Linked DNA regions of Homo sapiens: region 2 is linked to region 1. Evidence: fine-mapped QTL for protein levels in blood plasma. Region 1 holds a variant in brackets. A gene starts in the other region. All regions are shown on their reverse strands. Region 1 overlaps MARCHF10 (membrane associated ring-CH-type finger 10). Region 2 holds the start of COL3A1 (collagen type III alpha 1 chain).

The links. PIP is the chance, under the fine-mapping model, that this variant and not a neighbour inherited with it causes the effect. Protein levels are from antibody-based Olink assays in UK Biobank. Linkage for the fine-mapping came from a reference panel and not from the study's own genotypes, which makes the PIPs less certain.
Region 2: COL3A1 starts here. The variant in region 1 is fine-mapped to the plasma level of the COL3A1 protein (UK Biobank, PIP above 0.99).

What each region holds. Positions count from the first base shown.
Region 1 is chr17:62,696,117-62,701,443 of GRCh38, reverse strand. MARCHF10 (membrane associated ring-CH-type finger 10) reads left to right here. Exons shown (of 11, transcript NM_152598.4): 11 at 1-130. Among named protein-coding and RNA genes, the nearest start is that of MARCHF10-AS1, 7.4 kb to the left of the region's middle. The variant A/T (reference allele first, on the strand shown) is at 485.
Region 2 is chr2:188,970,162-188,975,499 of GRCh38, reverse strand. It overlaps COL3A1 (collagen type III alpha 1 chain), which reads right to left and starts at 1,127. Exons shown (of 51, transcript NM_000090.4): 1 at 932-1,127. The coding sequence starts at 1,010. LOC105373791 (a long non-coding RNA gene) reads left to right here. Exons shown (of 3, transcript XR_007087614.1): 2 at 5,021-5,153.

The DNA.
Region 1 (5,327 bases):
CCCTTAGCCCAGAAGCCCTGCCAGGTCCAGTGGCCTGGGGTCCCACTGCTGAGGGCACCTGCCAGGCCTCACTCCACCCTGAATGGACTCGAGCCATGTATTCATTCAGTAAACTGACATTATTCTCCCAGCTTCGTTCATGTTTATTTCACTTGCCTTGGTCAGAGGCCAAGGGTCTCAAGCTGGAGGGAGAGGGAAGCACATGTCACAGCCCACATCTCACCTCTACTTCTCCCTTGCTCCCACCATCACTGGGGATGCTACATCCTGGGCCCCCATGGGCTGGGGCAGGCTGGATGGTGGCTGCCCCTGTAGGTACCCACTTAGGACCCAACTGGGGTGTGGACTCCACACTTTTTTTCCTGATTGCATCTTAGGGCCCAAAGACCAAGTCAGGACTTGGGGTGGAAGGTCAGAGGGTTAGTGAGAAAATTGTGTGTGCGAGTGTGTTTGAGTACGTGTGTGTGTGTGTGTGTTTTTGTTT[A/T]AAAAAAATTGTTTTTTAAGCCAAAAAACAATAAAAGAGCTGGACATGGTGGCTCACACCTGTAATCCCAGCACTTTGGGAAGCCGAGGAGGATGGATCACTTGAGGTCAGGAATTGGAGGCCAGCCTGGCCAACGTGGCAAAACCCTGTCTCTACTAAAAATACCAAAAAAAAAAAAAAAATTAGCTGGGCGTGGTGGTGGACATCTGTAGTCCCAGCTACTTGGGAGGCTGAGGCATGAGATTCACTTGAACCCCTGCAGTAAGCTGAGATCGCACCACTGCACTCCAGCCTGGGCAACAAAGCAAGACTCCACCTCAAAAATAAATAAATAAAAATAAAAGGGCCAGTTATGGTGGCTCATGCCTATAAGCTCAGCACTTTGGGAGGCCAAGGCAGGTAGACCGCTTGAGCCCAGAAGTTTGAAATCAGCCTGGGCCATAGCGAGACCCTGTCTCTACAAAAAAAATTTAAAAATTTGCCATGTGTAGTGGCATACCCTCGTGGGCCCAGCTACTCGGGAGGCTGAGGTAGGAGGATCGCACGAGCCTAGGGGGTCAAGGTTGCAGTGAGCCATGATCGCACCACTGTACTGCAGCCTTGTAGACAAGGCTACAAGACCCTGTCACAAATAATAATAATAATAATAAAAGATGGAGGGGACAAACTACGGTACATGCAAAAATGTTATGCTAAGTGAGAAAAGCCAGACACCAAACACTACATAGTATATGATTCATTTTACACAATTTCTAGAAAAGGCAAAACTAGAGAGACAGCAAGCAGATCAGTAGTTGCTGGGGGCTGGGAAAGGAGCAGGGATTGACTGCAAATAGGGTCCAGGGGACTATTGGGGGTGAGTGAGGTGTTATAAAGCTGCTTTGTGGCAATATTTACACAACTGGATAAATTTGCTAAAGCTCATTGCCTCTATAGATTTTCTAAAAAATGGAGGGAGGGACAGAGAAAGGGCAGAGAGAGGAGAACGAGAGAGAAAGATGAAATGAGGAGGCGGCACTTCTCCCCCCTGCCTTTAAGACTTCTCAGACTAGGAGAGGCCCCTGCTTCCCCGACTCACCCTCTCCTAGGGGTCTCAAAGGATGAGATTTTTGCGGCAAAGGGGTGCCCTGAGCTGAATTAAGGAGTCAATAGGGTTTTAGGAAGGCCAGGCTTGACTCACCTTAAAATCTGGTCCCACTCTTCCGATATGTTCCAGTTAAAGTGATGCAACTCTTGAAAACCAACCAGTAGGTTCGCTGGGCACAGTGGCTCACGCCTGTAATCCCAGCACTGGGAGGCAGAGGTGGGTGGATCACCTGAGGTCGGGAGTTCTAGACCAGCCTGACCAACATGGCGAAAACCCAACTCTACTAAACACAAAAAGAATTAGCCAGGCATAGTGGCACATGCCTGTAAACCCAGCTACTTGGGAGGCCGAGGCAAGAGAATTGCTTGAACCCAGGAGGCGGAGGTTGCAGTGAGCCGAGATTGCGCCATCGCACTCCAGCTTGGGCAACACAGCGAAACTCCATCTCAAAAAAAAAAAAAGAAAGAAAACCAGTAGTAGTTTCAACCAGGCAGCCTAGACCCAAGATCAAAGTTAAGAGCCATTCGAGTCGAAAATATCTCCATGATTTAAATAAAATTCCTAAAACCTCAAGTTCCTCCACTCACAAAAATGGCCTCAAACTCTATGAGAAAATGAGCCTTTTGAACTAAACTTTAAGGTTGACTAAAGATTTGTCCAGGATCCAGTACTGAGGAATGTATAAGAAGGGACAGTGCACGTCTAAAAATAAGTTTTTGTAGAGAGCGGAATGGAATTTGAGGTGGCCGTGTAAACATCCTGACAGCTTGAATCCACAGTAGGATGTGACAGTGTTTGAGGCAGCTGAGGAGACCATCACAGGTTTACATCAGAAAATCAGGTTTTTGAAAAACTGTACTCTTTTTTTTTTTTTTTTTTTTTTTTGAGATGGAGTCTCGCTCTGTCATCAGGCTGGAGTGCAGTGGCATGATCTCAGCTCACTGCAACCTCTGTCTCCTGGGTTCAAGCGATTCTCATGCCTCAGCCACCCGAGTAGCTGGGATTACAGGCATTCGCCACCATACCCAGCTAATTTTTGTGTTTTTAGTAGAGACAGGGTTTCACCATGTTGGCCAGGATGGTCTCGATCTCCTGACCTCATGATCCGCCCACCTCAGCCTCCCAAAGTGCTGGGATTACAGGCGTAAACCACGGCGCCCGGCCAAAACTGTTTCAGGGATTTACCCAACCAGGAATGCTTCCCATGAGGTCCAGGGTGGGGTAGACATTGAGGAGCTGGGGACTACCCACACTATCAATTTGATTTCCTGGCAGGAGTCTGCCTGCCATATGGGGCTTTTCATGGCTTGAGATTCCAAGAGGACAGCCTCATTTATTAAAAGGCAGTGATGAGGCCAGGTGCGGTGGCTCACGCCTATAGTCCTAGCACTTTGGGAGGCCGAGGTGGGCGGATCACTTGAGGTCAGGAGTTCATGACCAGCCTGGCCAACATGGTCAAACCTGGTCTCTACTAAAAATAAAAAAATAATTAGCCAAGCCTGGTGGAGGGTGCCTGTAGTCTCAGCTACTCAGGAGGCTGACGCAGGAGAATCGCTGAAGCCCGGGAGGCAGTGAGCTGAGATCGCGCCACTGCACTCCAGCCTGGGTGACAGAGCAAGACTCCGTCTCAGAAAAATAAAAAATAAAAATAAATAATGCTAAAATATAAAATAAAGCATCCCCAATGGTATAAATGTCTAATACGTCAACCGAGCCCCACTTTATTTCTATGCATTGTACCCCACAGCCCAGGAGACCCAGGTGTCCCTCCGCCACTGCTTTGGGAAGGGAGGCCGTGGAGGCTCAGAAGGAAAGAGGTCATTCTTAGCCCTCAAGTCTCAAAATAGCCCTAAAACTCTCCAGAGATGAGAGGTTGGGACAAAGTTCTTTAGTCCCCAGGCCTGACTACAAGATCTCGAGGGGCTCTCTGTAGCCCTGTTGCCCACCCCACAACACGTTTTCCAGTGCAGGGAGGAGAGGTGGCATGGCAAGTTCTTCACCTTTGTGCCTTAGCTTTCTCATCTGTAAGAGGGGGACAGTAGCACCTACCTTATGTTGTATTGGGAAGATTAAGTGAGTTAATACGTGTTAAGCAGTTAGAACAGGGCGTGTACATAGTAAATAATACCTATTTTGTTATTATCATTGTCATGGAGGAATAGTGGGTCAGAGGCAGTGTTCTGAGCCCCCTGCAGCCCCAGTATGAGGAAAGACACCATCCAAGGTTCCCCAAGTCCCTGAGGGAGATGCAGAAGGGCAGGACACCCCTGCATAAGCCAGCGGGGACATAAATGACCGGGAACCAGATGTCCCTCCCCCAGCTGTGAAACCTGGACGCTCCATAGGACCTTAGAGGCACCTGGAAATATAGGCGAAAATCCCAACTGCACTAGAAAACCTTAACTGACCAGGATTTCCCTGAAATGGCTATAACTAAAGCTCTGCCATCAGCCGATGCAAGGAGACAGTTAAGGTTCTGCACTCCTCACTGTGTGGCCTTGAACCTCAGCGCCCCCAGCGTGTCCACCTCCAGCAGGAAAGGCCTGCCCACCGCTCCTCCTCCTCCCCTTTCTCCAGCGCTGGCATCCCGCCTGCTTGTCTGGCCAAGGAAGGATTGAAATCTGTCCCTCAAATGGTGCTGGTTCTGGTGGGAGTGAAGCCTGCAGGCTTTCCCCGGGGCCTCTTGGCAGTCCCAGCCCCGAAGATAAAGAAAATCAGGCCTGTCCGGAACATCTCGGTACTTTCATCTGGTGCTGGTCTTTCACAGCCCCCTTCATTTCCCTGCTGTCCTTTGCCCGCCCTCCCTCCCTCCAGCCTGCCTTCCTCCGGGTCCTCCCTCAAGTCGCAATTCTTTGCCTTGTGCCTGCAATGGACTCAAGCCCTGGTGCTCGAGGCGGCTTGGCCGGGCTCAGGTGGCTCCGTTCCAGGAGAGCCATGTGGTGTGGCTGGCGGCTCCTCACCCCTGCGGCCTCACAGGGCTGCCCACTGGGCCAGGCCAGCTCTGCCAGCACACCTTCGAGGAGGCCATCTCTGGCGCGACAAGAAGCGGTTGAGAGAATGCTGTTCTCTGGAGAGCAGCCGCATTCTCCCATTCATTCACGGATCCAGGTGGCCAGAGCGGGGCGGGTTAACCCTGCAAGTGAAGGCTGGGCCTAGCGCCTGGCATACAGTGCTGATTGCCCAGGCCTGCCAGGATAGGCTTGGGGGCATCTGCCACCCAGCAAAGAGCCTGGTATGTAGAGGAGGTACTTGATGTATTGAAATGAAATGAGCAGAAAGGAAGGAGACTGCCACCAGGGCTATCCTGAGCCAGAGGGTGAGTGGCCGGCATCCAGAGCCTGCCTCCTGCCCCTTCAGAGAGATGCAGGAGCCTCCCTTAGTCATCTCTGGGCAGGCTTAGAACGAGGTCTAGGGGTAGCCTCCAGGCACCCGTGACGCTGTCTGAAATGCTTGCAGGTGGGTGCAGGGCCCTGGGGAGACTCGTCACCTGAGCAAGGCAGAGAGACGTGAGGAGAGCAGGCACCAGCCACTGACGAGGGCAGCTCTGGCCACTGGGGTCCTCCGTCCCTCCGCTGCTCCCTCCCACCCCTCAAGCTAGTGATCCGGACCTCACTCCTTGACCTTTCTTCTCTCCCGAGGTTAGAGTCACTAGGGTCTTGGGGGGCCTCTCCCCCAATGTTTCTTGTGGTGTTGTGTCTGGAGTTGGTTCCTTCCAGTGGGTTCGTGGTCTCACTGACCTCAAGAATGAAGCCTCGG
Region 2 (5,338 bases), not on the chromosome of region 1:
TTTCTATGGAAGTTTGTATTCCAATTTGTTCAGCATTTTCATGACTATGGTAAATAAAAGAATATTTTCACATAAATAATGAGACAAATGTGTTTTTAGGGGAAATTAGAATATGAAAAACATTACATGCAATTATTAGAAAATATAGCAAAACAGCTTTCTGAAGTCAAACAGTACTAGTATCTTTACCTTGTTTGCAGCAAAGTCAAACCTCCTGTTGAAACATTTTAAAAAATATTTTCTTCATTAATGCGAATGTGGTTAAAACGTAGAATATGTGGAAAATATTAGTCCCTTAATATCAAGCTACTAGAAAAGATGAATTAATCAATCATTCTTGAAACAAAATAAAAACAGGAATAATAAAATATTTTAGCAGTTTGATCCCTTTGAAGAATGTTTATAGGTATCTTGTAGCCATTTTACAGAAATATATTCAATGATTCTGATAATGCGTAGAATCTTCCTTTAGACTGTTCTTAATCCATGATATTTGAAAGGCATTCTTATTCAGAAAACAATGCTCAATATTCTAACCTTACAAAGAATCCAGCAGACAAAGAGGAACATAAAATTATTGCAAGAGACCAATAACTTCCAGACTGCCTGGGGAAGTATTCCAAGATGTTAACAATCCAGGAGGGAAAAATTTTAAAGCCATTTTTAAAAGTTTCCAGTGCCTTTAACATGAAAACAAGTTAGTACAAGAACATCTTATCTTAACCACAGAACTCTTAAAAACACACATAACGCGATTATTTTTCAAGTAATGTAAAAAGCACAGCCATGGTCAGTTCAACGTTTCACAATCTGGAGCTTATAGAGGAAATTATCTTGAATCAGGCAACTGATTTTCCCCTTTACACCCCTCTTTGTGAGGAGAAGAAAGACAAAAATCCCATAAAGTTTCTTGAAATCAGTACCTACTCACCTTCCTGTTGTGCCAAAATAATAGTGGGATGAAGCAGAGCGAGAAGTAGCCAGCTCCCCTTTTGCACAAAGCTCATCATGTCTAAATATCAGACATGAGACTCTTTGTGCAAAAAGGAGAAAAGAAAAGCAGTTCAAAGTAGCACCATCAAGTTGTTCCCTGCCCTTCAGCACCGGGCCCGTCATAAAACTCAGCCACTGAGATTCCTTTGCTTTGGCCTTAAATAGGAAAAAGTTTGGCTTCCCTCACTTTCCAGCCCCTTTCTGAAATATGAGAGCCGCACCCATCCCCTCAGCAGTAAAAGAAATGATAAATATTTCTTTTTCCCTTATAGAAGACACAACCCACAGTAAGAAAAAGAGCACATCTGGAGTTTGTATGCATCTGCTTATGTAAAAGTTTTTTTACATATTTCACTCTTACATATATGTTTGTATAACTTAGGAACGTATAGAAATGCTCTGCCTTGTTTTAATACATACAATGTAAATGCATACATTTTTATTTCCCCTTATGAAGTTAACAACTGCATAATTTTGAAAAACTGCTTGATGCCCATTTATCTAGTATGTCTAATTTACAGAACTGATCTTCCTAGAAGATTTTTATGTTGGGATTTTGCCAGAAGTAATCCTAACTCAATTTAAATAGGAGACTGTAAGAGACTCACGGAAAGAAATGCCACCGTATGCCCCTTCGACTCATCCACCCACCCTGGGTCCTAGAAGTTAAGTTTCAGGCAAATATCAAAAGACAAAGTATTTCAGCAATGTTTGAATGGCTTCCTAAAAGTTAGATACTTATCTATAGCTGTTTCCATTTCTCACAAATTTCTTTAGCAAGCCAGAGTGCTTTCTTGTGAGATTTCCAATTTTTATGCTGCCTGGGAAAGACAGAGCAGATTTTTCTAGAGAAAAATTCAGCCTTTTCATGACATAACTTTTTAGGAAACTGGAAGAGAAAGAGTTTATCACATAGAATAGCAAAAGAGTACCAGAGAAAGTGGTCATTTTTTCTGCATTACTCTAAAGATTAGTATAAATATTTCTAATTTAGACTTTTATGTGTATACTTTCCAGATCCTCATCCACAAAACTTTCCAATGTATTTCTGGATCTATCTAAGCAGTAATTTTTGTGTCATATTTGAAAGAGGGGCAAATACCATTTATAGGTCTTTGATAAATCTCTGCAGGAAAAATATGCTTGTCCACAGTATAAGGCTATATCTGGCAATGGAGATATCTCTTTACACCCTAATCATCAGTTCATAGTTAGTTCATCTATCTCTATAATCTACGGTGGACATTTCAATTCTAATCAAGGTCACTTGAACTAATTTTCTTCACCTTCACCTAAACATGTCCGTCTCTATGCCTGTGCACATAAAATTCTCCCCATTTCACACCAATTAATGGAAGTCACTTCCTTATGCCTCAATGCAAAACTTTCCTCCTTAAGTAAATTACCTCCTTTAAACTAATTTTCATCTTTCTCTTTCTTCTAATTTGTGTTACTAAATTTTCACTCAACTCATGTCATATGTATATTCCCAGGTGTACATGAATCCTGTAAGCATGGACAGTGGCAAACTTGCTTTCTTGTTTCTTGCATCTTTTTTTTTTTTTTTTTTGCGACGGGGTCGCCCTCTCTCGCCCAGGCTAGACTGCAGTGGCGCAATCTCGGCTCACGGCAAGCTCCGCCTCCCGGGTTCACGCCATTCTCCTGCCTCAGCCTCCCGAGTAGCTGGGACTACAGGCGCCCGCCACTACGCCTGGTTAATTTTTTGTATTTTTAGTAGAGACGGGGTTTCACCGTGTTAGTCAGGATGGTCTTGATGTCCTGACCTCGTGATCCGCCCGCCTCGGCCTCCCAAGCTTTCTTATATCTTCAGTCACAAGGACACAAACCAAGACATCTCAATGTAGATGACATCATTTGATGACAGGAAAGGAAAACTAGAACGAGACCAACCTCTTGTGTATCTTTATTTTAGATTGGAGAGTCACTGCTTGGGGGCGTGGGAGAAAAGTAACTGTTGAGAATGGTCATGAATATAAGCTTTTCTACTGGATCACAGTAGAGATGCTGGGGAAAGGCTGTTATATGCATCTTTCTGTCTTTCAGACATCTTTGTCCTGTACACAAAAAATATTTCCTGTGTTCAAACCAATTCAGAAACATAGTTTTTCTCATGATGTCTTTGTATCTACGTAGAATTCATATATCTATATTAGATTTCTCTCATTGTTTTAGGTGGTCTATAAAAGCTGAAATTTATTGAATTTCTTCATTAGATTTATTTTCCACTGTGAAAAATTAGAAATGTTATTTTTAAAATAATGCTTGTTATGCTTTATTTTAGGCATTATAAATAAAATTACTATTGTTCTAAAATTCTTAATTTGCTTAGCTATTCAAATAAAAGCCTTATACTCATGAGAAAAATTCATGATTGATGCACTCACTTAAGAAACATTAGCTGATGTTTTGCATATGGAAGGATTGTTGTATTTTAAGGTCTTCAGGAGAGACCTAGAGAATTCATTCTCCAGATATTCTGATTTACGATTCTTCACTACCTCGAATATGGAGGTTTTGCACTAGGATCCTTTGCATTCTGTGTCCCAGATCCTATTTTTCTACCTCCTGTCAAAGCATTTCCTAATACGGGGTCAAAGCATTTCTTAATACAGGGTCTGAACTAGGTGAAATGCATACACTTCTGAATCCTATTATGCCATCCAGGAACTGCTGTCCTCATTGTTATCTAGCCACACATTTCTTCCCATACTTCCCTGACTTCACTGATGTTAACCAGGACACATAAACATGTCATTTTGCTTTTTGGATTGCATTTGGAGCTTTAACACAAATCTAAATACCTGCACCAACTAAAGCACTGATTAATCTGGATCTCCTTTAACAAAGAGAGTGCCTGGAAAGATGAGGCAAAGCAAGGGTGTGGCAGATTATCAACCAAAAATTCAAATCTTTTCCAATTCAGTGGAAAGTGGAGCTTGAGAGAGATGCACAAGCACAGCTGTGATGAACTCAGTAGGCCAGTGAATGCCAGCAGCGCTTTCTACAACAGCACTAAGAAAATCAATTATCTCCACCATGGAAAACACATGGAACAGAAATGTTTCAATGTTTCTCTCTTTCCTCTCCCCTCCCCTTTGTTGTGCGGCTTTATGTGTGATTTTCTTTTTGAAGCCAGCAAGATGCTTTATTTTTAGGGACATTTTCTAGATTTCAAATCACTGTAAAGCCATTTAAAAACTACTTGTGATAATAGAACTACCAATACAACTGTAAAATACAATGCAGGTCTTCTTTATTATTCCCAGAGAGGTTGATCAGTTCACTCAGTTGATAAAGGTAAAACCACATTTGAAGAGTTGTGTTTCCTTTAAAAGAATTTGAACAAATACTAGTATGTGCATAGTAGAGCCAAAAATATGGTTGAAAAAGTCATGTTGTACTTGCAGGACTTAAACATATTTAACCATAGATATGTCCAGGATTGAGGCAAATTACACTGGCAGTGGGACATGATAGTCCAGTTTTTGAGTGATTATATGACCAAGTCTTCAAGACCCTTTTCTTTAATTTCCCCTTAGTCCCCAAGGTAGAGTTCATTGACCCCTTGTTTTTTTCTTATAGAACCATTTTAATAACCATTTCTTTTTAGCCTGGAAATTTCACTTTTGTACAAGATTTATATTTTCTTGACATTTAGTAAAATAAAGTTTTAGTAAAATTTAGTTAGGAAACACGAAGTATCTCAATTCCTATCTATTCTTTGTTATTAAACTTAAGGCTCTAAATTTTTATCTTTGTATTTTGCAACTGAAAAGTATCCCAAGAATGAACAGAAAGTTTAAAGAGGTTACATGACTCTCAAAATTACTCATTGGAATTGTAAATAACTAAAAATTTTCACTTTTGTACAAAATCCATATTTTCTTGACATTTAGTAAAGTAAAGTTCCAGTAAAATTTAGTTAGAAAAAACTGAGTATCTTGATTCCTACCTATTCTTTGCTATTAAAGCTAAGGCTCTGAATTTTTGTCTTTGTGTTTTGCAGCTGGGAAGTATCCCAAGATTGAACAGAAAGTTCAAAGAGGTTCCATGACCCTCAAAATAATTCATTGCAACTGGAACTGACTAGCACACTTTACAAATATTTTCACCATGCTTTCCACTAATCACTGATTGTGGTAAAGATATTTTTACGCAATTTAGAAGTGTGGTAAATACAAATCTGACACTTAATTTTGTATGTTTTCTAATGAGGCATTGTGAAAGGATGAAAAAAATGATAATGTTATGGAGTTAATGGCCAATTTACAAAAATTACCATTCTGATTTTTGTCTTGTCATTAATCTTTGAGTAATTTTCAGT